Linked DNA regions of Homo sapiens: regions 1, 2 and 4 are each linked to region 3. Evidence: fine-mapped expression QTL. A gene starts in region 3. Each other region holds a variant in brackets. All regions are shown on one strand. Distances are between the middles of the regions. Region 1 overlaps ARHGEF18 (Rho/Rac guanine nucleotide exchange factor 18). Region 2 overlaps ARHGEF18 (Rho/Rac guanine nucleotide exchange factor 18). Region 3 holds the start of ARHGEF18 (Rho/Rac guanine nucleotide exchange factor 18). Region 4 overlaps ARHGEF18 (Rho/Rac guanine nucleotide exchange factor 18).

What was found. PIP is the estimated chance that this variant, and not a neighbour inherited with it, causes the effect. A credible set is the group of variants that fine-mapping cannot tell apart.
Region 1: its variant is the best candidate, but not a certain one, in a credible set for the expression of ARHGEF18 in whole blood (INTERVAL, PIP 0.50).
Region 2: its variant is the best candidate, but not a certain one, in a credible set for the expression of ARHGEF18 in whole blood (INTERVAL, PIP 0.65).
Region 4: its variant is the best candidate, but not a certain one, in a credible set for the expression of ARHGEF18 in whole blood (INTERVAL, PIP 0.63).

What each region holds. Positions count from the first base shown.
Region 1 is chr19:7,459,554-7,466,660 of GRCh38, forward strand. It overlaps ARHGEF18 (Rho/Rac guanine nucleotide exchange factor 18), which reads left to right. Exons shown (of 29, transcript NM_001367823.1): 20 at 350-441; 21 at 2,599-2,781; 22 at 4,265-4,402; 23 at 5,007-5,137. Among named protein-coding and RNA genes, the nearest start is that of PEX11G, 26 kb to the right of the region's middle. The variant C/G (reference allele first, on the strand shown) is at 4,865.
Region 2 is chr19:7,405,469-7,413,261 of GRCh38, forward strand. The region is part of intron 10 of ARHGEF18 (Rho/Rac guanine nucleotide exchange factor 18); the gene reads left to right. Among named protein-coding and RNA genes, the nearest start is that of ARHGEF18-AS1, 14 kb to the left of the region's middle. RefSeq lists a silencer at 4,542-4,681. The variant C/T (reference allele first, on the strand shown) is at 3,835.
Region 3 is chr19:7,345,096-7,352,888 of GRCh38, forward strand. ARHGEF18 (Rho/Rac guanine nucleotide exchange factor 18) reads left to right here and starts at 3,842. Exons shown (of 29, transcript NM_001367823.1): 1 at 3,842-4,146.
Region 4 is chr19:7,469,234-7,477,026 of GRCh38, forward strand. ARHGEF18 (Rho/Rac guanine nucleotide exchange factor 18) reads left to right here. Exons shown (of 29, transcript NM_001367823.1): 28 at 671-796; 29 at 893-3,245. The coding sequence ends at 1,065. It overlaps PEX11G (peroxisomal biogenesis factor 11 gamma), which reads right to left. Exons shown (of 5, transcript NM_080662.4): 5 at 7,642-7,793. Among named protein-coding and RNA genes, the nearest start is that of PEX11G, 16 kb to the right of the region's middle. RefSeq lists a silencer at 3,922-3,971 and an enhancer at 7,613-7,793. The variant G/A (reference allele first, on the strand shown) is at 2,869.

The sequences.
Region 1 (7,107 bases), 110 kb after region 3:
CCTTAATCTGGTTCAGACTCCCCCATCCACAGTAGCTGTAGCTCTACGGGGCTTGCAGCCACCCACCTGCACCTGGCAGGTCCTCTGCAAGCCCGCTGTCCCCTGGACTCCTCCTCTAAGTCACAGGCAGGCATGTAAAGCCTCTTCCTGGTTATGCCCTGGCGCTTTGGGGCGGGATGAATGTCAGTGGCTCTCTCTCTTCCCCTCCTCGTCCTCCTGCACCACGAACAAGCTAAATCACTCCCAAAGTCAGAGACGGTCGTGGCGGCTGGTTCTGCAGAACCAGCGTCTGTGCCGAGGCTGGCCTGCCTGGGAAGCACAGTTACCCACCCGACTCCTCTCCCTGCAGCTGCCCTGACGAGGAGGAGGGGCCCTTCAGCCTGCCCGAAGAGGAAAGGAAGGTGGTCGAGGCCCGCGCCACGAGACTCCGGGACTTTCAAGGTGAGCGGGAGACAGCGTCTGGGCACACCCCTTGTGTGGTGAGCCCTGGGCCCTCCATCAGGACTGGCCACAGAGGGTGAACTGCCCCCCAGGTGACCCGGTGTTTTCCCGTGGGCTGTGCCATGTCCTGCAGCTCTGTGAAGCATTAGAACGGGCTGTGCCATGACATAGCGATCTCCAGAGGTCACTTAGCCCTTTGGGGGTATGTGGGAGAGGGAGGGAGGAGAGCCCAGAGGACCTGAGCCCCTTCCAGAGCCGACCACACAGCCACACACGCCACCACCACCCCATCCTCGTGCAGCCAGGAGCTCAACAGGGCATCCCAGTCCCATACGAAGGAATAGCACAGGGTCCCCACAGCCTCCTTCCAGAGCTTCCTCCTCCCTGTTTAATTACACGATTGAGATGTAATTCACACACCACAGCACTCACCCTCCCAAGCGTGGGGTTCAGGGGCATTTCAGTGCATTTCCAATTATGCAGCCAGAATCATGTTAACTTTAGAACATCCCACCACCCCAGAAAGAAGCCCCGTCCCCCTTAACAGTCACTCCCCACCCCATGCCCCAACCCTGGCAACAGGAATCTACTTCCTGTCCCTGTAGATTGGCCTGCCCTGGACATTCCACATAAATGGAGTCACACCGCGCGGCCTTTTGGGTCTGGCTCCTCTCGAGGTGTGGTATTAAGGTTCGCCCGCGCTCAGTGAGCACTTTGTCAAGAACAATTCCTGGTGCCCTGTAGCCTGCGGCAAGCTCCCTTCTTCCCTTTCACTGTCTGTATTTTTTTTTATTTTATCTTCTTTTTTTTTTTTAAACAGAGCCTCGCTCTGTCACCAGGCTGGAATGCAGTGGCGTGATCTCGGCTTACTGCAAGCTCTGCCTATCAGGTCCAAGAGATTCTCCTCCCTCAGCCTCCCGAGTAGCTGGGACTATAGGCACCCGCCACCACGCCCCACTAATTTTTGTGTTTTTAGTAGAGATGGGGTTTCACCATGTTGGCCAGGATGGTCTCAATCTCTCGACCTCGTGATCTGCCTGCCTCGGCCTCCCAAAGTGCTGGGATTACAGGCGTGAGCCACCGCTCCCGGCCCTGTATTATTCATTTCTAAATTGGATAATACTCAAACAATAAGTGGCCTGGTATGGTGGCTCATGCCTGTAATCCCTGCACTTTGGGAGGCTGAGGCAGATGGATCACTGGAAGCCAGGAGTTTGAGACCAGCCTGGACAACATGGCAAAACCCTGTCTCTACAAAAAATTTAAAAATTAGGCTGGGTGCGGTGGCTCACGCCTGTAATCCCAGCACTTTGGGAGGCCAAAGCAGGTGGATCATTTGAGATCAGGAGTTTGAGACCAGCCTGGCCAAGATGGCAAAACCCCGTTTCTACTAAAAATACAAAAAATTAGCCAGGCATGGTGGTGCGTGCCTATAGTCCCAGCTACTCGGGAGGCTGAGGCAGGAGAATCGCTTGAACCCGGGAGGTGGAGGTTGCAGTGAGCCGAGATTGTGCCACTGCACTCCAGCCTGGGCGACAGAGCGAGACTCCTTCTCAAAAGAAGAAGGAAGGAAAGAAAGAAAGGGAGGATGGAAAATTCAGTTTTCTAAGGCTCTAAGTTGGTCCCAGACTAATAAATGGGCCTGATACAATCCTCACTCACACCCTACTGTGTTTGATTTTATTTTATTTCTTTTAGAGACAGGATCTTGCTTTGTTGGCCAGGCTGGAGTACAGTACTGCAGTCATAGCTCACTGCAGCCTTGAACTCCTGGGCTCAAGCGATCCTCCTGCCTCATTTCCCAGGCATGCACCACCACAACCAGCTAATTTTTTATTTGTAGAGACAGAGTCTCATTATGTTGTCCAGGCTGGTCTCGAACTCCAGGCCGCAAGAGTCCTCCTACCTTGGCTTCCCTAAGTACTGGGATCGCAGGCCTGAGCCACCACAGCTAACCTGATTTTTATAACAAGGGGGAAAATAATCAGAGGACAAGGCCATGCCCTCCCCTACCTCCCAGGAATGCAGGACACAAGGGGGCAGCCTACCTCAGGGCAGGGCCAGCGGGGTTCCTCATCCTTAGGCCAGTCCCCGGGGCTCAGATGATTCCAGGGAAGGCCGACCCGGCTGACTGCCACCTCCACCATCACTCTGCAGAGCGGTTGAGCATGAAAGACCAGCTGATCGCACAGAGCCTCCTAGAGAAACAGCAGATCTACCTGGAGATGGCCGAGATGGGCGGCCTCGAAGACCTGCCCCAGCCCCGAGGCCTATTCCGTGGAGGGGACCCATCCGAGACCCTGCAGGGGGAGCTAATTCTCAAGTCGGCCATGAGCGAGAGTAAGTTGGCTGCCCACACCTCAAGGGTGCAGTCTTGCCGGGGTGGGCTCCTCAGGGAACCCCAGGCCAGGCTCACGGCTCATTGTGGCCGACACGGCACCCTGTCCAGGACAGGCTTCTATGTGGGGGGGGCCCAGGAGCAGCACTGACCGCCCCCCGGTGCCTGTGAGAGCCAGAAGGGCCTTAGACATAATCTGGGCCAAGCCGCTCCTTGCAGACATAAAGCACTTTCTCCCCGTTCAACAACCGCTCTGATGCTCCCTGCATGCAGAGGCTCTAAGCCGGGCCGTGGGGAGGATCTGAAGTTGACTAAGACTGGTTCCCTACCTACCAGAGGTTCCTCTTCTTCCTGGGAGGTGGGTCCTGGTGATATCCCCAGAAAAACACACGCACACTCCCTCAGTGGGTCCCCACGCACAGCTCTAACACAGCCGCCAGGCCCCTGGGCTGGCCGCTTGAGCAGGCAGTCAGCGCCCAGTCTGCTCTTTCTTTTTTTCTTTTCTTTTTTTTTTTTTTTTTTGAGATGGAGTCTCGCTTTGTCACCCAGGCTGGAGTGCAGTGGCGTGATCTCGGCTCACTGCAACCTCCACCTCCTGGGTTTAAGTAATTCTGCCTCAGCCTCCTGGGTAGCTGGGATTACAGGCACCCACCACCACGCCCAGCTAATTTTTGTATTTTTCGTAGAGATGGGGTTTCACCATGTTGGCCAGGCTGGTCTCGAACTCCTGACCTCAGATGATCCACCCTCCTCTGCCTCCCAAGGTGCTGGGATTATAGGCGTGAGCCACCGCGCCCTGCCTCAATCTGCTCTTTCAACAGTGAGGGAAGCCGACTCAGCCCCTGCCTTCCAGAGCCTTTCCGCAGAATAAGACGGCAGAGACGGGGGTCAGTCTTTCTCCCTCCAGGCCCACTGACATCCTTCCACCCGGCTCCAGTGGCCATTGTTCTTGGCCCCCTGGGGACACTCTCATATCCCGCACCTTGGCCTGGAATGTTCTTGTCCCCACCTCTGTGCCTGGCCACAGCCTGTTGGTCCTAGAGGGCTTTCTGTAGACAGCCCTTCCCCACAAAGTCACTCTCCCATATGGCCATTGTCACACAATCAGTGTATGGTCATTGTCATATAACACACCAAGTGTTTCCTGCTGGCCCTGGGCAGGGCCACATCCAGCATTCGCCAGCCCCTGGCCCAGGGCGGCCTGGTGGAAGGAGCTGCAGGAGCCTGTACCCGCCCTCCCCATGGCTGCCCCACAGCCCTGTCCTCTCACTTAGACGCAGATTGGCCTGTCCTGGTGGCCATACCTGAAGTAAGGGTGTGCGCAGGGACAGTGGGGCTGAAATCCCACGGCACACAGAAGGGGGCAGGCGATCACCACCCCAGTGAGTCCCTCCGTCCACCCGGGTCTCGCTGCCCCAGCGCTCCGTATTCCCCCAGCACACTTCCGCAGGGCGACCCGTGCCTCCTGTCCCCTTCCTTCCACAGTCGAGGGCATCCAGAGCCTGATCTGCAGGCAGCTGGGCAGCGCCAACGGCCAGGCGGAAGACGGAGGCAGCTCCACAGGCCCGCCCAGGAGGGCTGAGACCTTCGCGGGCTACGACTGCACAAACAGCCCCACCAAGAGTAAGAGCGGGGCCGTCTCCCCTCCTGCCTCCAGGGCCGCCCCTCAGGATGCACATTAACTTGTATGGGGTTTCCTAGAACTTTCTTTTTTGTTGTTGTTGAGACAGAGTCTTGCTCTGTCACCCAGGCTGGAGTGCAGTGGCGCAATCTCAGCTCTCTGCAACCTCTGCCTCCTGGGTTCAAGTGATTCTCCCGCCTCAGCCTACCAAGTAGCTGGGACTATAAGCACACGCCACCATGCCCGGCTACTTTTTGTATTTTTAGTAGAAATGGGGTTTCACCATGTTGGCCAGGCTGGTCTCGAACTCCTGACTTCAGGTGATCCGCCCGCCTCAGCCTCCCAAAGTGCTGAGATTGCAGGTGTGAGCCACCGCACCCAGCCGATTTTCTGGAACCTTCTGAAACCCTCCAGACATCGTTGGTTGTGTTGTGACAGCAGCACCCAGACCAGCCTGCCCCTCT[C/G]CAGCAGGCGTCTGTGCTGCAGACGCCACCATTCGGGCCTAGCCTGGGTTTCCTACCTGGGCAGGGGCTGGGGGTGGACTGGGAAGCTTCCCCCTCCCCACGGGATGGCAGCATCCTCATGCCCCTGGCTTGGGGTTCTCAGATGGCAGTTTCAAGAAGAAAGTCAGCAGCACTGACCCCAGGCCCCGAGACTGGCGAGGCCCCCCAAACAGCCCGGACTTGAAGCTCAGTGACAGTGACATTCCTGGGAGCTCTGAGGAATCGCCGCAGGTGGTACGTGGATATCCATTTGCTCGGTACAGTCTGAGTCGTCATAAGGATTCATGTGTGTGAGCAGCTTCTGCTGGGGTTGTCCAGTTTTAGTCTTATTAGCATCGACAAGCATTGTTTGTTTTGTGGTGAATAACAGTATCTCAGCCCAGATTAATGCACTGGCAGGTGATTTCTTCCTGCAGCCTCCTGGGAAAAGCAAAGAGGTCCCCAAGAGGAAGGCTGGGGAGGGGACAGGCTCAGGGCACTCACCATGGCTTCATCAACAGGCGAGGAACCCCCTACAGGGACCACCAGCTTTCAGCCGGGGCAGGTGTGGTGGTGCCTACCAGATGCCAGATGTCCCCGGCTATTCCTTTGCCTTTGAATCAGAAGGCCAGGTGCCTACTCGGCCCTGCCCAGGTCAGGGGGTCAGAGGCCAAGGCCAGTTGCCTCTGATCAGTTCTGAGGCTTGGACTTGCCCCTGTGGCCAGAGCTGGCACGCAGGCCTCATAGCCAAGCCCACTCTACCTCCCAGGAGGCCCCAGCCCCTCGTTTTCCAAACACCCAGATTTGTACAAGTCAGCTGACCAGCAGGGCCTGTGTTCCCAGTCATGACCCGGTCCTGGGTCCTTCCTGTTATCCACACTAAGGGATGTATTTTCAATAATAAGCAGGGGCCGGGTGCAGTGCCTCACACCCATAATCCCAGTGTTTTGGGAGACCGAGGTGGGAGGATCACTTTTTTTTTTTTTTTTTGGAGACAAGGTCTCACTCTGTCACCCAGGCTTGAGGGCAGTGGCGTGATCACAGCTCACACAGCCTCTAACTCCTAGGCTCAAGCAATCCTCCCACCTCAGCCTCCCAAGTAGCTGAAACTACAGGTGCGCGCCCCCACACCTGACTAATTTTTTAAATGTTTGGTAGATACAGGGTCTCACTATGTTGCCCAGGCTGGTTTCCAACTCCTGGGCTCAAGCAATCCTCCTGCCTGGGCCTCCCAAAGTGTTGGGATTATAGGCAAGGCCGCCATACCTGGCCTTGGGAGGATCACTTGAGGCCATGAGTTTGAGACCAGCCTGGGCAACATAGCAAGACCACATGTCGACAAAATATTTTTAAAATAGCTGATCCTTTGGCTGGGTGCGGTGGCTCATGCCTGTAATCCCAGCACTTCAGGAGGCCGACTCGGGTGATCACTTGAGTCCAGGGTTTGAGACCAGCCTGGCCAACATGGTGAAACCCTGTCTCTACTAAAAATATAAAAATTAGCTGGACGTGGTGGTGGATACCTGTAATCCCAGCTACTCAGGAGGCTAAGGTGGGAGAATCGCTTGAACCTAGGAGGTGGAGGTTGCAGTGAGCCGAGATTGCACCACTGCACTCTAGCCTGGGCGACCAAGCAAGACTTTGTTTCAAAAAAGTTAAAAATAGCTGCTGGGTGTGGTGGCTCACGCCTGTAATCCCAGCACTTTGGGAAGCCAAGGCAGGTGGATCACCTGAGGTCAGGAATTCGAGACCAGCCTGACCAACATGGTGAAACCCCGCCTCTACCAAATATACAAAATTAGCCAGGCGTGGTGGCACATTCGAGTAATCCCAGCTATTTGGGAGGCTGAGGCAGGAGAATCACTTGAACCAGGAAGGTGGTGGTTTCAGTGAGCTGAGATCGTGCCATTGCACTCCAGCCTGGGCAACGAGCAAAACTCCATCTCAAAAAAAAAAAAAAAAAAAATTAAAAATAGCTGATCCTGGTGGTGCACACCTGTAGTCCCAGCTACTCAGGAGGCCGAGGTGGGAGGATCAGGCCACTACACTCTAGAGCAAGGCCCTGTCTCAAAAAAAAAAAAAAGAAGCCAGGCATGGTGGCTCATGCCTGTAATCCCAGCACTTTGGGAGGCCGAGGCGGGCGGATCACCTGAGGTCAGGAGTTTGCAACCAGCCTGGCCAACATGGTGAAACTCCGTTTCTACTAAAAATACACAAAATTAGCC
Region 2 (7,793 bases), 60 kb after region 3:
CTAATGACCTCTGCCCCAGGCTCTCTTTCCAAAGAAGTCCATATTCCAGGGTTCTTAGTGGACGTGAATTTTGGTGGGACACTGTTCAGCCCACTTCAGGAACCTCCTATTTCTAGCGATTTGTAAACAACAAATTTGTTTTGTTTTAGTTTTTGTTTTTGAAACAGGGTCTTGCTCTGTTGCCCAGGCTGGAGTGCAGTGGTGCGATCATAGCTCACTGCAACCTCTACCTGCCAGGCTCAAGCAATCCTCCCGCCTCAGCCTCCTGAGTAGCTGGGACCACAGGCATGCACCACCACGCCTGGCTAATTGTTGGTTTTTGTAATGCTGTTTTGTAGAGATGGGGTTCCACCATATTGCCCAGGCTGGTCTTAAACTCTTGGGCTCAAGGGATCCTGCTTCAGCCTCCCAAAACACCGGGATTCCAGGTGGGAGTCACCATTCCCAGCCTAGAACAAGTTTACAAGCTATTGGCACTCATTTCTTAGGCTCTTTACAACACAGTGATTTTCCAGTATTTTGAAGTTGAAGTAAATGTAGAAGGTCTCACTCTTTAGAACCAGTTAATTGCAGAGAGGAAAGAGGAGGTCTTCAGGAGAACACCAGATTCTTTTTGTTGTTGTTGTTATTGAGACGGAGTTTCGCTCTGTCACCTAGGCTGGAGTGCGTTGGCGCTATCTCGGCTCACTGCAACCTCCACCATCCGCTTGGGTTCAAGCGATTCTCCTGCCTCAGCCTCCCAGGTAGCTGGGATTACAGGCGCGTGCCACCACGCTTGGCTAATTTTTGTATTTTTAGTAGAGACAGGGTTTCACCATGTTGGCCAGGCTGGTCTCGAACCCCTGACCTCAGGTGATCCACCCACCTCGGCCTCCCAAAGTGCTGGGATTACAAGCGTGAGCCACCACACCTGGCCTCCAGATTCTTTTTGAAAAGCTTCTAAATCTGAATTCTCTGTGAATATAATTTGCCAAAACGTATGAGTAGGAATCTGATATTACAGTCTGTCAAATGTCTGGCCGTGTGCCTATACTCCATATAATCTTTTCCTTCCCCTGCATTCAGATACCACCTTCATCAAACACAAAAGTGTTATAGATTCAGAGAGGGCAAAAAACAAAGCTGTACCAGCTGCCTTCCCCTGCACCTAGCTTACGAGCTGACCTTGAGACACAGGATATGTTAAAATATATTCAAGCTCACACTGTTGCAGTTCTAAAAGGAATGCTAATGAAGGTCTTTGCAAGGTTCTGGAATTTTCCTAGCGTAGGAGCTGGTTGCTGACTTATATTAATAGTTATAGCCACCTGGCACAGTGGCTCACGCCTGTAATCCCAGCACTTTGGGAGGCCGAGGTGGGCGGATCATGAGGTCAGGAGATTGAGACCATCCTGGCTAACACAGTGAAACCCCGTCTCTACTAAAAAAAAACAAAAAAAAACAAAAATTAGCCGGGCGTGGTGGCGGGCGCCTGTAGTCCCAGCTACTTGGGAGGCTGAGGCAGGAGAATGGCATGAACCCGGGAAGCAGAGCTTGCAGTGAGCGGAGATCGTGCCACTGCACTCCAGCCTGGGCGACAAGGCAAGACTCCGTCTCAAAAAAAAAAAAAAAAAAAGGTTATAGCCATCATACTCAGGATGGTAGGGAACTTGAGATGCTCAGAAACCAACCACTGGCCAGGCATGGTGGCTCACGCTGGTAATCCCAGCACTTTGGGAGGCCAAGGTGGGTGGATCACCTGAGGTCAGGAGTTCGAGACCAGCCTGGCCAACATGGTGAAAACCCCGTCTCTACTAAAAATGCAAAAATTAGCCGGGTGTGGTGGCGGGCACCTGTAATCCCAGCTACTCAGGAGGCTGAGGCAGGAGAATCGCTGGAACCCAAGAGGTGGGGGTTGAAGCGAGCCGAGATTGAGCCACTGTACCCCAGCCTGGGTGACAGAGTGAGACTGAGTCTCAAAAAAAAAAAAAAAGAAACCAACCTCTTTGCTACTTGTTTGTGGCCTGTTTGCTCCCAGCATGGGCAATTTCAAGCGTCTGGAATTCAGTAATGACTTTGCACAGCGAATCCACTTTGCCACTCCTTTTATTCCGGTTCCTTCTGCACATCAGGGATAGAGCATTGGGAGTTCCCAGACTGCATGAGCCCAGCTGGTTGCATTTGAATTCTTGGAAATAGGCTCTCCCTTCCAGAACAAACCAATTAGATATAGTAGGCCAGGGGCCAGCAAATTTTTTCTGTTAAGAGCTAGGTAGAGGCCGAGACGGGCGGATCACGAGGTCAGGAGATTAAGACCATCTTGACTAAAACGGTGAAACCCCGTCTCTACTGAAAATACAAAAAAACTAGCCGGGCGTGGTGGCCGCGCCTGGAGTCCCAGCTACTCGGGAGGCTGAGGCAGGAGAATGGCGTGAACCCAGGAGGCGGAGCTTGCAGTGAGCCGAGACCGCGCCACTGCACTCCAGCCTGGGCAACAGAGCGAGACTCCGTCTCAAAAAAAAAAAAAAAAAAAAAAAAAAGAGGTAGTAGGCTGGGTGCAGTGGCTCACGCCTGTAATCTCAGCATTTCAGGAGGCAGAGGTGGGCAGATCACTTGATCCCAGGAGTTGGAGACCAGCCTGGGTAACGTGGTGAAACCCCATCTCTACTAAAAATACAAAAATTATCCAGGCATTGTGGCTTATGCCTATAATCCCAGCTACTTGGGGGGTGAGACAGGAGAATTGCTTGAACTCGGGAGGTTGAAGTTGCAGTGAGCCGAAATCGCACCACTGCCTCCAGCCTGGATGATAAAGTGAGACCCTGTTTCAAAAAAAAGAGAAAGAGCCAGATAATAAATATTTCAGGCTTTGCAGCCCACATAGCCTCTGTCACAGCCACTCAACTCAAAAGAAGCCACAGACAACAGAGAAACAAGTGGGCGTGGCCGTGTTCTGATAAAATTTTATTTACAAAAACAGGTGGCCAGCCCACAGACAGTAGGGGTTCACCAGCCCCTACAGTAGACGCATCATTTTTACAGTTCTGTTTCTAGGGCCACAATGGTCTGACTAAATTTGGCGAGGGATGCGGGTTAGGGAACAGGAGGCCCTCACCTGTCTCATGAGCTTAGCAGCTGTGTCCCAGGTTGACCTCTTCACAATCTGGGCCCATCCATGAGCAGCAGCTCCCTGAGGGGCCCCTCTTTATCCTGCAGTGTGTTTTCTAAGGGAGTAATGATCTGTTGTGGTATTTGCAAGCCTGGGGGTGTTCAACATAGAGTTTGAGTCCCCCCAGATGAAAACAACAAGACCGGCTGAGTGCAGTGGCTCACGCCTGTAATCTCACACTTTGGGAGGCTAAGGCGGGAGGATCACTTGAACCCAAGAGTTCAAGACCAGCTTGGGCAACATAGTGAGACCCCATCTCTACAAAAAGAAATATATAAACTTACACACGCGTGGTGACTACAGGTAGGTAGTGTGCACCTATAGTCCCAGCTACTTGGGAGGCTGAGGCAGGAAGATCGCTTGAGTCCAGGAGTTCGAGACTGCAGTGAGCCGTGATTGCACCACTGCATTCCAGCCTGGGCAAGAGCAAGACCCTGTTTCTTTTTTTTTTTTTTTTTTTTGAGTTGGAGTCTCGCTCTGTCGCCCAGGCTGGAGTGCAGTGGCGTGTTCTCGGCTCACTGCAAGCTCCGCCTCCTGGGTTCATGCCATTCTCCTACCTCAGCCTCCCAAGAAGCTGGGACTACAGGCGCCCACCACCTCGCCCGGCTAATTTTTTGTATTTTTAGTAGAGACTGGGTTTCACCATGTCAGCCGGGATGGTCTTGATCTCCTGACCTTGTGATCCA[C/T]CGCGTCCGGCCGACCCTGTTTCTTAAAAAAAAAAAAAAAAAAAAGACTTAATGGCAGTCCCAGTCCATGCTATGGAAAGGTTGGCCTCTGTGAGAGTTTGGATTAGATTGGAAACTAATGAAGAGTCTTTTTTTTTTTTTTTTGAGTTGGAGGCCACTCTATCACCCAAGCTGGAGTGCAGTGGTACAATCTCGGCTCACTGTAACCTCCACCTCCTGAGTTCAAGCTATTCTCCTGCCTCAGCCTCCCAAGTAGCTGGGATTACAGGCGCCTGCCACCACCTCCAGCTAATTTTTGTATTTTTGTATTTTTTAGTAAACACGGGGTTTCACCATGTTGGCCAGGCTGGTCTCAAACACCTGAACTCACACTTGAGCCAAGGCCCACCTCGGCCTCCCAGAGTGTTGGGATTACAGGCGTGAGCCATCGCGCCTGGCCTGTGAGGGGTTTTTCTTTCTTTCTTTCTTTTTTTTTTTTTTTTATTGAGATGGAGTCTCACTCTGTCGCCTAGGCTGGAGTGCAGTGGTGCAACCTCAGCTTACTTACTGCAACCTCCGCCCTCCAAGTTCAAGCGATTCTCCTGCCTCAGCCTCCCAAGTAGCTGGGATTACAGGTGCCTGCCACCACACCCGGCTAATTTTTTTTGTATTTTTTTTTTTTTTTTTTAGCAGAGATGGGGTTTTACCATGTTGGCCAGGTTGGTCTTGAACTCCTGACCTCGTGATCCACCCGCCTTGGCCTCCCAAAGTGCTGGGATTACAGGCGTGAGCCATCATGCCCGGCCTGTGAAGGGTTTTTCTAAGGTTCACCAGCCCTGACATCATTGCAGTTCCCTTTTTCCAGAAATGCAGTGCCCTTGAATACTTTCCCCGCCCATTGAAGGCAAACAGGGTTTTTTCTGGCATTCTGCACACCTGTTTTGCTGCCCTGCCTTCCGCCTGTGACTGATTGCTTTTGATCTGCTGAAAGAGAAACCCCCGGCCTCTCTCAGGTGTTTGGTTTCCTCTGTCCGTCTTAGAGTCACCTCTGCTGACATTTATTTGCTGTTTATTTCCCACATTAAAATTGTTGGCTTGAAATATATATATATATACACACACACATACATACACACACACATATGTATATAAATCTTCCAGCTTTCTGGAAGATTTCAGCTATGTAACTAGACCTGAATTAATGTTTTCAGAATCAGTCTTCTTTTCATCAAAATGTTTTTCAGGGGCTGGGCATGGTGGTTCGCGCCTGTAAATCCCAGCACTTTGGGAGGCTGAGGCTGGCAGATCATCTGAGGTCAGGAGTTCGAGACCAGCCTGGCCAACACGGTAAAACCCCATCTCTACTAAAAATAAAAAAATTAGCTGGGTGTGGTGGCATGCACCTATAATCCCATTTACTTGGGAGGCTGAGGCACGAGAATCGCTTGAACCTGAGAAGCAGAGGTTGCAGTGATCTGAGATTGTGCTATTGCACTCCAGCCTGGGCAGCAGCGTGAGACTCCATCTCAAAAAAAAAAAAAAAAAAAGGTTTTTCACCCTTGTCATTTTGATTTCTGCCCAGTCAATAGAACTAACATAATTGTTTAAAAAATGCCACGCACTGCCCTTCCTAAGAAGGCCTCAGGGGGTGGAATAGTTTTGCTGGGACCTCTTATACTTCAGCATCTGGCCTGTACCCAGTGTCAAGAGAAATACTCACAAGGCAGATGCTTTTTCAGCATCTGCAATATCTATAGGTGATATTGAAGGTCCCTCCATCCTGATACCAGAAAATAGTGTGAAATTTGCACAAAAGGAAGCAGAGGATCTCAGAACAAGCCTGGGCAGCGCAGGGCCTCTCCACCTGAGACCTGGCCTTAGGCACTTTCTTTTGTCAGATATGTTAAAAATGAAGTTGCACACCAAGCTTCTCTCTTTCCTTCTTTTCTTCCTGTTCCTTTCCCCTACCTCTTCCCCTTCCCCTTCCCCTTCCCCTTTCCCTTTCCCTCCCCTCCCCTTCCCTTTTCTTTTCTATTTCTTTTCTTGACAGAGTCTTGCCCTGTTGCCCAGGCTGGAGGGCAGTGGTGTGATCTCAGCTCACTGCAACCTCCACCTCCCAGGTTCAAGCAGTTCTCCTGCCTCAGCCTCCCAAGTAGATGGGATTACAGGTGCACACCACCATGTCCAGCTAAGTTTTGTATTTTTAGTAGACACAGGCTTTCACCATGTTGGCCAGGCTGGTCTTGAACTCCTGACCTCAAGTGGTCTGCCCACCTCGGCCTCCCAAAGTGCTGGGATGACAGGTGTCAGCCACCGTGCCCAGCCAAGTGGCATCTTTTTTTAAAAAAATCATTTTTTAAGTGCACAGGTTGGTGGCATTAAACACATACACATTGCTGATGCTACCATCACCACCATCCATCTCTAGAACTTTCTCCTCTTCCCAAGCTGCAACTCTGTCCTCATAAAACACTCACTCTCCATCCCCCTCCCCAGCCCTTGGCACCCACCATTCTACTTCCTGTCTCTATGAATCTGACAACTCTAGGGACCTCCTAGAAGTGGAGTCACATACGATGTATTCTTTTGTGACTGGCTTATTTCACTGAGCATAGTGTCCTCAAGGTCCATCTGTGTGTCAGAACTTCCTTCTTAAGGCTGAATAATATTACAGTGTGCGTGTATGTCACGTTTTGTTTATCCATTCATCTATACATGCACACTTATTTCCATGTTTTGTGTTTTTTTGTTTGGTTTTTCTTTTTTTTTTTTGAGATGGAGTCTCGCTCTGTCACGCAGGCTGCAGTGCAGTGGCGTGATCTTGGCTCACTGCAACCTCTGCCTCCCGGGTTCAAGCAATTCTCCTGCCTCAGCCTCCCAAGTAGCTGGGATTACAGGGGCGCGCCACCACACCCGGCTAATTTTTGTATTTTTAGTGTTGGTCAGGCTGGTCTCGAACTCCTGACTTCGTATTCCGGCCTCCTCGGCCTCCCAAAGTGCTGGGATTAGAGGCGTGAGCCACCGCGCCCGGCCTATGCTAGGGTTTTTAGGAACCACCAAGCTGTCTTCCATAGCAGCTGCCCCATTTTACCTTCCTACCAGCAGTGTATGAGGGTCCTGGTTTCTCCGCCTTCTCACCGAGACACTTAATTTTCGGTTTTTTAAATTATACCATTTTAGGCCAGGAACGGTGGCTCAGCCTGTAATCCCAGCACTTTGGGAGACGAAGGTGGGCGGATCACCTGAGGTCAGGAGTTCCAGACCAGCCTGGCCAACATGGCAAAACCCCGTCTTTACTAAAAATACATAAAGTAGCCGGGCGTGGTGGCAGGCGCCTGTAATCCCAGCTACTCAGGAGGCTGAGGCAGGAGAATCACTTGAACCCAGGAGGCGGAGGTTGCAGTGAACTGAGATCGAGCCACTGCACTGGAGCCTGGGTGACAGAGCAAGACTCTGTCTCAAAAAAAAAAAAAAAGTAAATAAAATAAATTATCCCATCTTAGTGGGTGTGAAGTGGGCGGTTTTGCTTTGCGTTTCCCTGGTGACTACTGATGTTGAGCGTCTTTTCATGTGCTGACTGGTCGTTTGTATCTCTTCTTTGGAGACGTGTCTGTTTACATCCTTTGCCCATTTGTGAATGGGAGTATTTGTTTTTTATTGTTGAGTTGGAGGAGTCCCCTTACTAGTTGCATCTGACACTATAGGATCTTGCAAGAACTGGAAAGCAAGTCACAGTTTCCCGTGACCTTTGGCATTTCAGCCAGCGAATCAGGATCAAACACATGGAAATAGAAAGCATCTAACCACGTCCCACACCATATTTTTGGGGGCAGGATCAGAAGCACGCAGAGATATTAAGATAGTTATGGGCTGGGTATGGTGGCTCATGCCTGCAATCCCAACACTGTGGGAGGCCAAGGCAGGAGGATCGATTGAGCCCAGGAGTTCAAAACCAGCCTGGGCAACACGGCAAGACCCTG
Region 3 (7,793 bases):
CAAAAGTGGGAGAAAAGGGCAGGTGCGGTGTGTCGTATTTGTAATCCCAGCACTTTGGGTCCTGTGACAGTCCTCCTCCGCCTGGCTCCAGCCACACCTGCTTCCTTCTGTTCCTCAAACACCCCAAGCTCAGTCTTGCCTCCAAGCCTTTGCCCTGGCAGTTTTTACCACCCAGAATAACTTTCCCCTAGATTTTTTTTTTCTCACTCTATCACCCAGGTGGGAGTAGGGTGGCACAATCTCGGCTCACTGCAGCCTCTGCCTCCCAGATTCAAGTAATTCTCCTGCCTCTGTGTCCCGAGTAGCTGGGATTACAGACAGACGCCACCACACCCGGCTAATTTTTGTATTTTTAGAAGAGATGGGGTTTCCCCATGTTGGCCAGGCTGGTCTTGAACTACTGACCTCACGTGATCCACCCGCCTCGGCCTCCCAAAGTGCTGGGATTACAGGCGTGAGCCCCCACGCCCAGCTAGACATTGATTTATATGCCTGACTTCTTCTGAGCTTACAGATCTCAGCTCAAATGGCCTTCCCTGACCTTCCCAGCTAAAGCATCAACCTCCCCCACCCACTCTATCGCATCACTCTGTTTACTTCCTGTTGCGGCAATTCACAGCACCTGAATTTATCTCCTAGGTGTGTTTCCTGATTCACTGTTTGCCTCCCCCAGCTGGAGCTCCTGCAGGGCGGGGGTTTGTGTCTGTCTTGTTCACCGTGATCCCACACCTGCCACAGTGCCTGGCATACAGTAGGTGCTCGATAAATGCATGTTGCCTGAAAGAAATAATCAACTGGTTACAGAATGGGTGTGTGCAAATCTGTGTATATCTGTGTCTCCTTGTGTTCTGTGTGTGTCTCGTTGGTGTGATTCTGGGGATGGCCCCACCTGTGTCCCCAGGGACAAGCGCGGCGCTATGGGCCAGTGAGTGTTTGTGGTGAGGGCTTTCCGGGTCTGTGTGTTAGTGATTTTGAGTGGTCCCGTGGCAACCGGTGTGCAAGTCAGTGTCTCCAGAGGTGTTCTCAGAGGTGGCCAGCATCTGCTCTTTTTTGTTGTTGTTGTTTTGTTTTTGTTTGTTGTTTAAGATGGAATCTCACTCTGTTGCCCAGGCTGGAGTGCAGTGGCATGATCTTGGCTCACGGCAACCTCCGCCTCCCGGGTTCAAGCCATTCTCCTGCCTCAGCCTCCCGAGTAGCTGGGATTACAGGCACATGCCACCACACCCGGCTAATGTTTATATTTTTAGTAGAAATGGGTTTTCACCACGTTGGCCAGGCTGGACTCAAACTCCCGACCTCAGGTGATCCACCTGCCTCGGCCTCCCAAAGTGCTGAGATTATAGGCATGAGCCACCGCGCCTGGCCAGCAGCATCTGCTCGTGTGTGTGTGTGTGTGTGTGTGTGTGTGTGAGTGTTCTGTGTGACTGTGGCTGTGAGTCCACATGTGTGTCGGGGTGTTTGTTGTGTATGTGTGTCTGCATGCCCATTCTGCATGTCCACATGACACTGCATGCTCCTGTGTGAAGTTGTGCCCATGAGCACACGTGTCTGTGTTTGCGTATCCTTGTGTGTCCTCTGGGTGTGTCCTTGAGCTTTGTGTTCCAGGAGCCTGCAGCCCTGTTGTGCAGCGCTGTTGTGCTCTGTTGTGCACGTGCATGTGTCTCGTGTCCTCTGTGTGTGGGGTGGCTCCTACATGTAGTTGTGCACACTTGTATCTGCCTCTGTGAGTCCCTGTGCCTATGTGTGACCATGTGTGAAGTGTGATTGTGCAGTATCCCAAAACCATCTGTGTGCACCGCTGTGCAGTAGTGTGCTGGTAAATGTTGAACCTCTCCAGTGGAGAGCACTGATTTATAGCATTGCCAGTCCTCATGGTGTAAATACTCTCGCCACAGCCAATTTCAAGTGATGCCACCGAACAGTGAGTCAGAAAGATATGGACAGCAGCAAACCATTATACAGTATTTCTACCAAACAGGTTCCATACACAAAAGCAACATCAAAAGCATAGATTATGAGGCCAGGTGTGGTGGCTCACACCTGTAACCCCAGCACTTCCGGAGGCTGAGGTGGGCGAATCCTCTGAGGTCCGGAGTTCGAGACCAGCCTGGCCAACATAGTGAAATCCCGTCTCTACTAAAAATACAAAAATTAGCCTGGTGTGGTGGGGGTCACCTATAATCCCAGCTACCTGGGAGGCTGAGGCAGGAGAATCACTTGAACCCAGGAGGCAGAGGTTGCAGTGAGCTGAGATTGCACCACTGCACTCCAGCCCGGGCAACAGAGCAAGACTCCATCTCAAAAAAAAAAAAAAAAAAAAAAAAAAAAAAAAAAGGAAAAGGAAAAAAAGCATAGATTATGGAAAATGCAGCAAAAATAATGTTAAAGTGATTAATTTAAATGTGGTAAAATAGGCATAACGTAAAATTTACCATTTTAACTTTCTTTAAAAAAAATGGGATTTCACTCTGTCACCCAGGCTGGAGTACGGTGGCACAATTATAGGTCACTGCAGCTTTGAACACCTGGGCTCAAGTGAGCCTCCCCGCCTCAGCCTCCGGAGCGGCTGGGACTGCAGGCAGGCACCACCAAATGTGGCGAAGTTTTAAATTTTTTGTAGAGTACTCACTCCAGTGACAGGCTGAAGCCAGCCCAAGAGCCAAGTTTAGTGGAGCATCATGGCTCATGCCTGTAATCCCAGCACTTTGGGAGGCCAAGGCGGGTGGACTGCTTGAGCCCAGGAGTTTGAGACCAGCCTGGGAAACATAATAAAATCCCTGTCTCTACAAAAAAAAAAAATTAACTTAGGCTGGGCGCCATGTCTCGTGCCTCTAATCCCAGCACTTTGGGAGGCCAAGGTGGGAGGATTGCTTGAGCCCAGGAGTTCGAGACCAGCCTGGGCAATATGGTGAGACCCTGTCTGTACTAAAAATACAAACCAAAAAAAAATAGCCAGGCGTGGTGATGTGTGCCTGTGGTCCCAGCTACTCAGGAGGCGGAGGTGGGAGGATCACTTGAGCCCAGGGGATGGAGGTTGCAATGAACCAAAATCACCCCCACTGCACTCCAGCCTGGATGACAGAGTGAGAGCCTGTCTCAAAAGAAAAATTATATATAAAAAATTATATATAAATTATATATAAGTCTATATATAATCCATATATAATTATATATAAAGTATATATAAATTATACATAAATTATCTGTAAACAAAAAACTTAGCCAGGCATGGTGGCATGTGCCTGTAATCCCAACTACTCAGGAGGCTGAAGCAGAAGGATCACTTGAGCCCAAGAGATTGAGGCTGCAGTGAGCTATGATTTTTCCACTGCACTCCAGACTGGATGACAGAATGAGACCCTATCTCTAAAAATAAAATAAACAGTTTTTTGTTGTTGTTGTTGTTGTTTTCTAAAAAAAGCCAAATCTGAGCATTTCCTATCAACTCCACACTCGGTGACATCACACTGGTAGGTGAAATCGGCCATGCTGGGGGTATTTACACCAGGAGAATTGGCAATGGCTACAAATCGGAGAGGTGGTTGTTAAACGTTACCAGCACACCATGTTGTTCCGCCAGCTTCCAGGTACCCATGTAACAATGTAGCCACGTGTGTTTCTGTCTCTCTGTGTGTACCCACCATGCTGGTGTGTGTCTGGGTGCCTGAGTCTCTACGGATACACATGACCTGCACGTCCCTATATGTTGCTGTCTATACACCCATGTGCCTGGGTGAGGCCCCCACACCCTGTTCCTCTTCAGCAGTTGGTTCCACAGGAAGCTGCTGGGGTGGGGGTTGAGGACGCTGGGCCTCCCTCCAGCTCCCCACCCCTCCTCCTCAAGACACCTGCATGCGCAGGGCTGAGGGGTGGGAGCAGGGCTCTCTGCCTCCAGAACCCCCATCCTCTGGGCTCTTTTTAGGCCCCTAGATTGGCCTGCAGCTGGGAGCAGAGTGGCAAGCATGCAGGCAGGCAGTTGAGAAAGAGGAAGTCGAGGTGCTATTGGGTCATTCTGTGGTTATCCCAGGCTCTACCCAGCCAGCGGTTCCCTTGGGCCAGCTCGAAACGCTGGCCGTAGGTCATGGGAGCTGCAGGAGCTGTTAGCCAGGCTAGGTGCCTGCAGGTTGAAGAACTGAGCTCTATCTGGTAAGTACTTATCCTGGGAAGTGGAGAGAGATGGACCCATCGGGACAGAGTGGCAGTGGGGTCTGGGAAGTCTAGGGGGACAGCGAGCAGACATACATCACTGTTTCTCTCCCCCTTGCAGTCAACTTGCTTCCTGAGTGGGTGGGGGAAGCTGTTTGACCCTTGCGTTCATTGTGCAGAGATCTGTGGTCATAAGAGGTCACCCCAGGGGACGGGGATCCTTGAGGGGCTGCTAGGTAAGAAAGGAGGGTGGAGGCCGGGCGCGGTGGCTCACACCTGTAATCCTAGCACTTTGGGAGGCTGAGGAGGGCGGATCACTTGAGGTCAAGAGTTGGAGACCAGCCCGGCCAACATGGTGAAACCCCGTCTCTACTAAAAATACAAAAATTAGCCAGGCGTGGTGGCGGGCAGCTGTAATCTCAGCTACTCGGGAGGCTGAGGCAGGAGAATGGCTTGAACCCGGGAGGTAGAGGTTGAAGTGAGCCTCTCAGTCTCAAAACAAAGAAAAGAAAAAGAAAAGCAAAGAAAGGACGATAGAGCTCCTTGTAGCCAAGGCCCTCCTGCGTGGAGACAGGAGACAGAGAATGAATGGGGGAGCTGGGGCAAAGGCTCAGGTGCCCTTTGCATCTTAAACTGCAGATTCCGGGCCCCCCAAGAACCTCCCTGTTGCAGATTCTGAATCCACTGTCAAAACAAACTCACACTTAAGGCTGATGGCTGACAACCAGCCCTGAGAAGGGTCTTGTCCTGATCTGAAATCATCCAGAGAGCACATCCCTCCACCCAGGCAGCCTTCCTCCAGGTGAGGGTTCTCCCCCTTGGGAGACATCCCCTGTCTCCTCTCGTGGCCCCTTCTTAGGGGGACCTCCTGCACCACCGCCTGCCTGGGACTGGGAGGGGTGGGGGAGGAAGGCTGCGGTTTCTGCTGGGCACACCCAGTCTGTTGTTTCCTGCCAGCCCCCAATGCTGCAGGGCAGGCTTCAGGCACCCTGAGGTCTAGGAAGGTGGCCCCAGAACCAGGAGGGAGTGAATTGAGCTAGAGTGGACAGCTGGGGCCAGAGAGGATGGAGCTAGGAAGTGACGCTGGGGGCTGATGCTCCAAGGCCAGGTCACCTGCAGTTCTGAGAAAAGAACATGACAACCAAAGGAGGTCAGGAAAGGGTTGCCCTCATAATCAGCCACATTTCAACTCCCTTGCTGTGACTGGGAGTCACTCTGGGAGGGCTGCTTGGTAGAGGCAGCCTTTTCATTATGCCTTGAAGAACCAGTAGATGGCAACTGCAAACACGTCGGTGCTTCTGGTCTGGGCTGTCTCCCATGCCTCCCTGGGCATCCCCTAGCCCATGACAAAGGGATGGGCATATGTTGATGCTCGATACTGTTGTAGATGACATGGTGACTGTGTTGGACAGCTGGGCGTTCAAATCCCAGTTCCCTGGCCTCTATGTGGCCTTGGGCAAATGACTTAACTGCTCTGAGCTTTCGTTTGCTCATCTGTTAAAAGGCTGTTGAGTTTTTTGGGGTGGGTGTGTGTGTGTGTGTGTGTGTGTGTGTGTGTGTGTGTGTGTGTGTGTGTGTTGGAGATAGAATCTTGCTCTATCGCCCAGGCTGGAGTACATTGGTGCAATCTCAGCTCACTGCAACCTCCGCCTCTCGGGTTTAAGCAATTCTCCTGCCTCAGCCTCCCAAGTAGCTGGGATTACAGGCACACGCCTCCATGCCCAGCTAATTTTTGTATTTTTAGTAGAGACAGGGTTTCACCATATTGGTTAGGCTGGTCTTGAACTCCTGACCTCAGGTGATCTGCCTGCCTTGGCCTCCCAAAGTGCTGGGATTACAGGCATGAACCACCTCGCTCAGCCTTTATGAAGTTTGGTCTGTGAGATCTTAGTGCAGTGTCTGGCACGTAATAGATCAGAAAACATTGTCAGCCTCACCTATGCCTTCATACTGACCTTGTCCCCAGGCCTTCCTTCCTGAGCAGTCCCACCATCTTCTGAAATGTTCTGGGTCATACCCATGGTGGATCTCAATCTGTAAGCAAGTCTGCTAGAGTGGACTTCTTTTGTTTGTTTGTTTGTTTGTTTGTTTGTTTGTTTTGAGATGGAGTCTTGTTCTATTGCCCAGGCTGGAGTGCAGTGGCACGATCTCGGCTCACTGCAAGCTCCACCTCCCGGGTTCACGCCATTCTCCTGCCTCAGCCTCCCAAGTAGCTGGGACTACAGGCGCCCGCCACCATGCCCGGCTAATTTTATGTATTTTTAATAGAGACGGGGTTTCACCGTGTTAGCCAGGATGGTCTTGATCTCCTGACCTTGTGATCCCCCCACCTCAGCCTCCCAAAGTGCTGGGATTACAGGCATGACCCACTGTGCCCAGCTAGAGTGGACTTCTTAAGGATCCCATCCAGCCATCCCTGTATCATATGCTACTGTATTTTCTCTCTGCCTCTCTCTCTCTCTCTTTTTTTTTTTTTTTTCTGAGACAGAGTTGCCCAGGCTGGAGTGCAGTGGCACAGTCTCAGCTCACTGCAACCTCCACCTCCTGGGTTCAAGCAGTTCTCCTGCCTCAGCCTCCTGAGTAGCTGGGATTATAAATGCATACCACCACACCTGGCTAATTTTAGTAGTTTTAGTAGAGACAGGGTTTCACCATGTTACCCAGGCTGGTCTTGAATTCCTGACCTCAGGTGATCCACCTGCCTTGGCCTCCCAAAGTGCTGGGATTACAGATGTAAGCCACTGCACCTGGCCTGTTGTATTTTTAATTCTAGCATCTTTATCTCCTGTAGGGCTGTTGCTATTGTCTGTGTTTCTTCTTGTTTTTTGGTCATGAGGTTCTGTCTTCTAGTATGCCTGGTAGTCTGATTAAATGCCAGGCCTTGTTTGTGAAAAACTATAGGGATAATTTGTGTCTCTTTATGGTGTCATTTTCCTCCATAGAGCGTTTATTTTTGCTTTGGGCAGGCAGTTAGAGAAAGGAAAGATCACTTTAATCTGATTGTGACCTATGCTGACTTGAAGATGGATTTTGCTCTCGGTGAGGGCTAGTCTATGTCTGGTCCCTCCTTGCTCCTAGGGTGTAGTCTTTTAGGGGTGGCAATCACCTCCTCTTTTTGGGCCCTGAATTCCAATGTTTATTTCCCCAACATAAGATTGCTAAGAGCTACATTCAGGTTCTCAGGCTTTTTCTGGTCTGCCTCCCACTCACTCAAGAACTGTGTTCAAATCAACAACTTGTTTGTGAGGGAAAAGCATTACATTATGTCCTTCTCACTTTCCTAGGTTTCCTTTTTTTTTTTTTTTTTTTTGAGATGGAATCTCACTCTGTCACCCAGGCTGTCGTGCAGTGGCATGATCTGGGCTCACTGCAAGCTCCACCTCCCAGGTTCACGCCATTCTCCTGCCTCAGCCTCCCGAGTAGCTGGGAATACAGGTGCCTGCCACCACGCCCGGCTATTTTTTTGTATTTTCAGTAGAGACGGGGTTTCACAGTGTTAGCCAGGATGGTCTCGATCTCCTGACCTCATGATCCGCCCACCTCGGCCTCCCAAAGTGCTGGAATTACAGGTGTGAGTCGCCGTGCCTGGCCTTTTTTTTTTTTTTTTTTTTTTGACATAGACTCTTGCTCTGTCATCCAAGCTGGAG
Region 4 (7,793 bases), 120 kb after region 3:
TGGAGAGGAAAACCAGAAGGCACAGCTGGCATCGTGGCTGAGGCCACCCCACACAGGGCCGTGTTTGGTCTCCAGGCCCAAAACTGAGATGATCCACCCTGCATCTTCTCCACCTCAACCCTCAAAACAGTGGGATGGGGACCAGGAGCCTTAGAAAGGGACACGGGCAAGAAGGCAGAGATCCCTGGCCACGTGGGATCAGCACAGCCGGGACAGGGACAGGTGCAGGCGCCTCTGCTCATTGTCCCAGTTCCACAGAGCCGTTCCACAGAGTGGGACACGGAGCCCAGAGCAGCCCCAGTGTTTCCACGGAGGATGTCCAGGAGCTCCTCTGGGGGACACCTCCCTGGGGGACAACCAGGGATGTTCTGGGATGTTCTCTGAAGATTAAGGGTGTGTCCCGTGGTCACTAGGGCCTGTGCTATTTCCACAGGAGGCTCAGCCTCCTCTCCAGATGCCGGGTGACTCTGCAGGTCCTTCCGCAGGGAGGTTGGGGCCGTTCTCCCTGAATCTGGGGCTTAGCATCTGAGCAGCTCAGGTCACGGGATCCAGGCCGCCCGTGGGAAGTGTCAGGTGGGGGTGGCCAGGCCCCTCTGCTCTCGGAGGCTGCCCTGGCGGGTGGGGACAGCTGGCCAGCCTGGAGCTGGCCCAAATACCTTCTCTCTTCCAGCGTCCTTCGACCTGAAGCAGCAGCTGCTGCTCAACAAGCTCATGGGGAAAGATGAGAGCACCTCACGGAACCGCCGCTCGCTGAGCCCTATCCTGCCCGGCAGACACAGTCCTGCGCCCCCACCAGGTGAGCCCCCACCCCCTGACATGAGCCCAGTCCCAGGGCAGCGGGGCTGCGGCACCACCCGGCGACTGCTCAGTCTGAACCCTCTCTCTGTTCCAGACCCTGGCTTCCCCGCCCCGAGCCCACCGCCAGCTGACAGCCCCTCCGAGGGCTTCTCTCTCAAGGCCGGGGGCACAGCCCTCCTGCCCGGGCCCCCAGCTCCCTCGCCACTGCCGGCCACACCACTCAGCGCCAAGGAGGACGCCAGCAAAGAAGACGTCATCTTCTTCTAAAAGGGCCGTGACTCAAGGTGCAAGGCCCCTCCCTGCCCTGCCCACCCTTCCTGCTCTCTGGGGACCCCCATGGGGTCACCATGCCCACCCAGCTGTCCCCTCCTCTTCCCTAGCAAACCACTGATGACCGCCTGGCAGGGGCCAGCCTGTCGGTGCTCTGGGCCTTGCAGCTGTTTCTGTAGGGTTAGCGGTGGTGCCGGGGTCACTTTCTGAATCTCTTTTTTTTTTTTTCAAAAAGGAAAGTTTTTAATGGAAAGTTGAGCCAGAACTAAACCAGGGAGCTGTCTGAAATCATAGCACCCCATCCGGGTGGCGGGGAGATCAACTCCGAGCTGTTTTTCCGAGGCAGTGAGGAACGGTGCCGGCTCTGCACGGAGCTGAGGACAGGACAGACCTTGCTTTGAGAAGGAGCTGCCGGCCGGGGCCACGCTCCACAGCCGCCGCGCGACAGTGGAGCCAAGGGTTAGGGCACCAGGAGGGGCCAGGTGGCGTCGGCAGCATCTGTCCCCAGAATCAGGCAGAATCCACTTCCCAAACAGAGCCCCACGCAGGTTCACCATGAACCTCAGGGTCAGGGAATGAGCCAGGCACGGGGGCATGGGCAGAGAGGGCCACGGGGCAGGGCCCACTGAGGGAACATCAGTGGCCCTCCAGTCAGGTTCTGTGGGTTTGGAAGCCCATCGTGAAAGGGGCTGACCTTTGCCCCTTTTTACTTGGCATTGGTTTTGAAACCAGCTGTTTCCCAAACTCTGCTTCCCAAGGGCAACCGTTGCTGTTCACACGCTCAGCCTGTCTGGGGGAGCGGGCCTCTAGCTTCAGCCAGGGCGGGTACACACCCTGGGCACAGGGTCCTCAGCCCCCGGGAAATGAGCTCCCAGGGCTGGCGTCCCACCTTCCAGGTGGGGGCTGGCACATCACAGACTGTCGAGAGCGCCATGTCCCAGGGCATGCAGAGGATGCACCTAGAGACGTTGCAGCAAGTGGACAAGTGGCCGCTGTGCGGGCCCCTCGCTTGTAGTGAGCTGTTGCAGCTTACGGTCCGTTCCCTGGAGGGGTGGAGGAAGGAGGTGTTGGGCAGCATCAAAGGTGCTGGGACATCCCAGGGTGGTGAGATCCATCCACGATCCAGCTCCGGTGGAGAAAGGGCCCATGTCAAGCCTTGTTCTGCACCCCAAGCATTGGTGGTAGGACTGGGTCCTGGCTGATCGTCCTTGTTCCCAGTGGGGTACATGTGAGCCCCTGCCAGGGCCAAGTCCTTCTCCCGAACCCAGGGTCCTGGGAACTGCAGATCCCGGGGGGATTCAGCCCTTCTCCCACTGTGCTGGCAGAGGCACTCCTGTGACGCTGAATACAGTGAACAGGGACATTCCCGCCACTCGGGGACAGATGGGCACAAGGGAGGGGAAACTCCATCAGGAAGTGCTCCCCTGGGCAGAGGCGCCCACTGGGTGCTGTGGGCTCAGGAGGGGGCGGGGCAGGAGCTGGTGCCAACCGGGAACCAGAGCCCCACAGCCATACAGCCCATTGGTGACAAGGTCCTGAGAACACAGTGGCCAGGTGTCCCCAGGCTCCTGGCCCCTCCGACGACCTCAACTCTGCCCAGCCCGGTCCCTGGCCATCAGCGACGCTGTCCGCCCCCCGTCAGATCCCATGTGTGCCATGTTTATCATCAGTGTTTTGTATTTTTGTACTGAGTATCGGAGCACTTTACAGAAGCTGACTGTACATTCCTGTTCTGTTGTGAAGAGAACATTCCCAGACCCTGGCACCCTCCTGAGCCGGCGTGTGCCGGTCCAGCCCTCC[G/A]AGATGCCACAATTCCTTGGATGGGGGAGAAGTTCAAGGAATTTCTGCTCGGCCACGCGGTGGGAACCCCGCGTCCCCGCCATGTGGCAGAGGGGTCTCAGTCGTGCTAGGCATCGGGCGGCAGCGCCGACAGCCCTTCCCTCGCCAGTGCCCCTCGGCCACTCCTGGGTTGGAGCCCGATTTTATTTGTAAAGTTGACAGTCGAGCAAATGTTCCTATTTTCGTGGGATCTGCACACGTCTTTGTCAGTTGTGGTCATGATCTTAGTCACCTGCTAATTATTTTTACAATGATTACAACATTTCCTCACTGCGGGATATTTCTGACCCGCTTTAGAACTTAAGACCTGATTCTAGCAATAAACGTGTCCGAGATGAGCGGTGACTGGCGTGCACGTTCTTGGAGGTTTTATTTGAGGATTTTCTTCTGCCCAAACGTTGCTGCAGGAGTAGCAGGTTCTGTTGGGGGCTCCCCATGGCTCCTGCCCCTCAGCTCGCTCACCTGCCCTCCGTGTCCTGCTTAACGCTCTGAAGACCCCTTCAGGTCCAGTCCCCAGGAGTTGTTGGGGGTTTTGTTTTTGTTTTTGTTTCTGTTTTTTTGGTTTGTTTGTTTTTTTGAGACAGAGTCTTGCTCTGTCGCCCAGGCTGGAGACCAGTGGCAGGTTCTCAGCTCACTGCAACCTCTGCCTCCCGGGTTCAAGCACTTCTCCTGCCTCAGCCTCCTGAGTAGCTGGGATTACAGGTGTGCACCACCACGCCCAGCTAATTTTTGTATTTTTTTAGTAGACATGGGGTTTCGCCATGTTGGCGAGGCTGGTCTCGAACTCCTGACCTCAAGTGATCTGCCCGCCTCAGCCTCCCAAAGTGCTGGGATTACGGGCACAGGGCAGGAGTGGGGCGTGGAGGTGCCTGTGGAGGGTCCTGCCCACCGGGTACACTTCAGGCTTTGGTGGCGCCTCCACGAAAATCTTTTTGCTTTTAATCCACAATAACCGCAAAGGCTGGAACTTTCACTTCCTCCATCTGGGGTGAGAGGCAGCTTGGCCATGAGTATGAAATCATCATTTCCACCTGGTCTGAGTCCCGGTCCAGTGAGGCGAGGACCCTGCTGTTTCAACAGAGGGTTTCCCATCACAAGGGGACTAGGTGTAAAGTCGATCACTAGCTCACTAGGAAGCGCAAAAAGGGAACTCTCAGGCAGCACTGTCCACCAGGAAGATGATGCAGGCCACGTGTGGAATTTTTCATTTTTAGTAGCCATATTAAAAAAGTAAAAGGAGGGCCGGGCACAGTGGCTCATCCCTGTAATCCCAGCATTTTGGGGAGGCGGGGGCTGAGGCAGGAGGATAGCTTGAGCCCAGGAGTTCAAGACCAGCCTGGGCAACATAGTGAAACCCCTTCACAGAAAAATTAAAAAATTAGCCAGGTTGGCCGGGCGCAGTGGCTCACGCGTGTAATCCCAGCACTTTGGGAAGCCAAGGTGGGCAGATTACGAGGTCAGGAGATCGAGACCATCCTGGCTAACAAGGTGAAACCCCGTCTCAACTAAAAATACAGAAATTAGCCGGGCGTGGTGGCGGGCGCCTGTAGTCCCAGCTACTCGGGAGGCTGAAGCAGGAGAATGGCGTGAACCCAGGAGGCGGAGCTTGCGGTGAGCCGAGATTGCGCCACTGCACTCAGCCTAGGCAATAGAGCGAGACTCCGTCTCAAAAAAAAAAAAAAAAAAAAAAAAATTAGCCAGGTATGGTGGCGTGCACCTGTAATCCCAGCTACACAGGAGGCCAAGGCAGGAGGATTGCTTGAGCCTAGGGGTTCAAAGTTGCAGTGAGCTATGATCGTGCCACTGCACTCCAGCCTAGGCAACATGGTGAGACCCTGTCTATAAGAGCTTAAAAAAAAAAAAGGAAATTTGGGGGATAGAAAAAAGAAATGAAATTTAAAAAAAAAAGAAAAAAGGGCTGGACGCAGTGGCTCACGCCTGTAATCCCAGCACTTTGGGAGGCCGAGGCAGGCAGATCACCTGAGGTCCGGAGTTTGAGACCAGCCTGGCCAACATGTTGAAACCCCATCTCTACTAAAAACACAAAAATCAGCCGGGCGTGGTGGCAAACACCTGTAATTCCAGCTACTCTGGGGGCTGAGGCAAGAGAAGCGGTTGAACCCGGAGGCGGAGGTTGCAGTGAGCCGAGACTGCACGATTGCACTCCAGCCTGGGGGACAACAGTGAGACTTCGTCTCAAAAAAAAAAGAAAAAAAGGATGTAATTAATTTATTACATTTTTATTTATTTTTTTGACATGGAGTCTTGCTCTGTCACCCAGGCTGGAGTGCAGTGGCACGCTATCTTGACTCACTGCAACCGCCGCCTCCCAGGTTCAAGTAATTATCCTGCCTCAGCCTCCCGAGTAGCTGGGATTACAGGCACCCACCATCATGCCCGGCTAATTTTTGCATTTTTGTAGAGATGGGGTTTCACCATGTTGACCAGGCTGGTCTTGAACTCCTAATCTCAGGTGATCTGCCTGTCTCGGCCTCCCAAAGTGCTGGGATTACAGGCGTGAGCCACCGCGCCTGGTCTATTTTTTCTTCATTGTGGTCAAATGCACACAACATAAAACTGGCCAGTTGCTATTCTCCTGATGGTGGGCATTGGAGTGTGTGTGTGTGTGTGTGTGTGTGTGTGTCTCCCCCCACCCTCTGATTTGCTCCACCCCAACCCCAGCCGTCCTCTGACCTCTGCCTAGCTGACCCCTCCACTGGGATGCCCCCAGCCTTCCTCAGCACTCCTTATGGGCCCTGGGGGGCTTGGAGGCACCCTAAAATGAGATGTTCTGCAAAGAGGGCCTGTAGTGGCTGGGCACGGTGGCCCACGCCTATAATCCCAGCACTTTGGGAGGCCGAAGTGGGTGAATCACTTGAGCACAGGAGTTCAAGACCAGCCTGGGCAACGTGGTGAAACCCCGTTTCTACTAAAAATACAAAATTAGCCAGGCATGCTTGGGCGTGCCTGTAGTCCCAGCTACTCGGGAGGCTGAGGCAGAGAATTGCTTGAACCCAGGAGGCGGAGGTTGCAGTGAGCCGAGATCGCGCCACCGCACTCCAGCCTAGGCGACAGAGTGACTCTGTCTCAAAAAAGAGGGCCCGTAGTCTTTAAGGTTCACAAAGGGGTCTGTTCCCAGCCCCTAAAAGGTTGAAAACCACTGGACCAGAATGGGCAACCCAGGGACAGAGTAGTGGTCACCAAGCCTGGGGGCTGCGGGTGGGTAACAGCTGAGGGGTGTGAGGTTTCTCTCTGGGGTGATGGAATGTTCTAAGGTTGACTGTGGCTCTGCTTGCACGACTGTGAATGTACTAAAAGCCACTGAACTGTCCCCCTTCTGTGGATAAATTTTATATGTGAATTATATTTCCATAAAACTGTTTAAACACACACACACACACACAACCACACACACACACAACCACTGGACCAGCTGAGAGAGTGGGAGAGCGGCCTCCCTTTCTGGAAGCATCCAACCTGTCTGCTCTGTGCCTGGGCTCCACATGGTCAGTGTCCAAGGCCTTCCCAGCCCAGGCTGTATCCCTGAAGGTGGCTTGCTTTTCCTCCTGGCACCTGTGACCAGGTGGTCATGTGGCTTCCCCACACAGAGGCGCTGCTCCAAGGGCCCCACTGGTATGAGCTAGTAAGTAGTTGGGTCTCCAGGTAGACAATGAGATGCCCTAATCATGCAGGTGCTGCTAGGGGCTGGGAAGGAGGCCTCTGCTGAGGGCCAGGACAGGCCTGCACCCCCGACAAGGGAAAGAAGGGGGAAACCCACCAAGCCTGGCCCACTCGTGAGTCCTGGGCAGAAGGAGCCCCCACAGATGGGGTCTCCCGCACCCGTGTGACCCTGAGCAGTCCCCGGCCTCCCAGCTGCTCAGAGCCACCTGGTATCTTCCTTGTAAAAAACAAACCACAAATGTACTCTGGGAGGCCGAGGCAGGCAGCTCACTTGAAGCCAGGAGTTCAAGACCAGCCTGGGCAATGTGGTGAGACCCTGTCTCTACAAAAAGTTTAAAAATTAGCTGGATTTGGTGATAAACACCTGTAGTTCCTGCTATTCAGGAGGCTGAGGTAGGAGGATCCCTTGAGCCCAGGAGTTTGAGGCTGCAGTGAGGCTATGATCGCACCACTGCACTCCAGCCTGGGTGACAGAGATCCTGGGTCAAAAAGATAAAAATCAAGGCAGTGCAATTGATATCACATGAGGCCCAAGGGCGCACACACACTGGCTGTTGTGTGTTCCTGGGCCAGGCTGTGCAACAATGTCTGCCAGAGGCCACATGTGCACAGACTCTGAAGGGTTGTTCTCAGCCAGCAGACTAAGCAGTGCCCTCATCCCATCCCACCACACATTGGCTGAGGTGGGAGCCCCAAGTATCTTCAGCGATGCCAGTGTGTGTTGCCCAGTCTCAGCCTGGAGCCCTTAAAATGCTCACAGTGGCCCTGCGTCGGCAGCACAGTGGCATGAGGCCACGCCCTCGGGTGGCCTGATGAGAGGTGGCGCCTCTGGCCTGTGTGCCCAGGACTCTGGGGAGTAGAGAACAGCCCTCAATGGCTGGAGGCCACTTGGGGTCCGTGGGCAACGCTTGCTCAAAGATGGAGAGGACCCACCGGGCTGAGGGCATTCCTGAAGGTGGGCTGGGGTAGTGTGGTTTCCAACTTTGGGTCCGTCCTGTGGAGGGTAAGGGGCCAGGAGCCAGCAGTGTAATAACCTTCACCCCTGAGCCAGGCGCCAGCACCACAATGTTTAATTGATTCCCGTTCCAGCTTTCTCAAGGCACGACAGGCCCCCTCTTCCTCATCTTGATTTGGATACAAGACGCCAGCTGGCAGGCAGGAGGTGCTGCTGAAGCCCTGCACGGCCCCTGAAAACTGTCACGGCT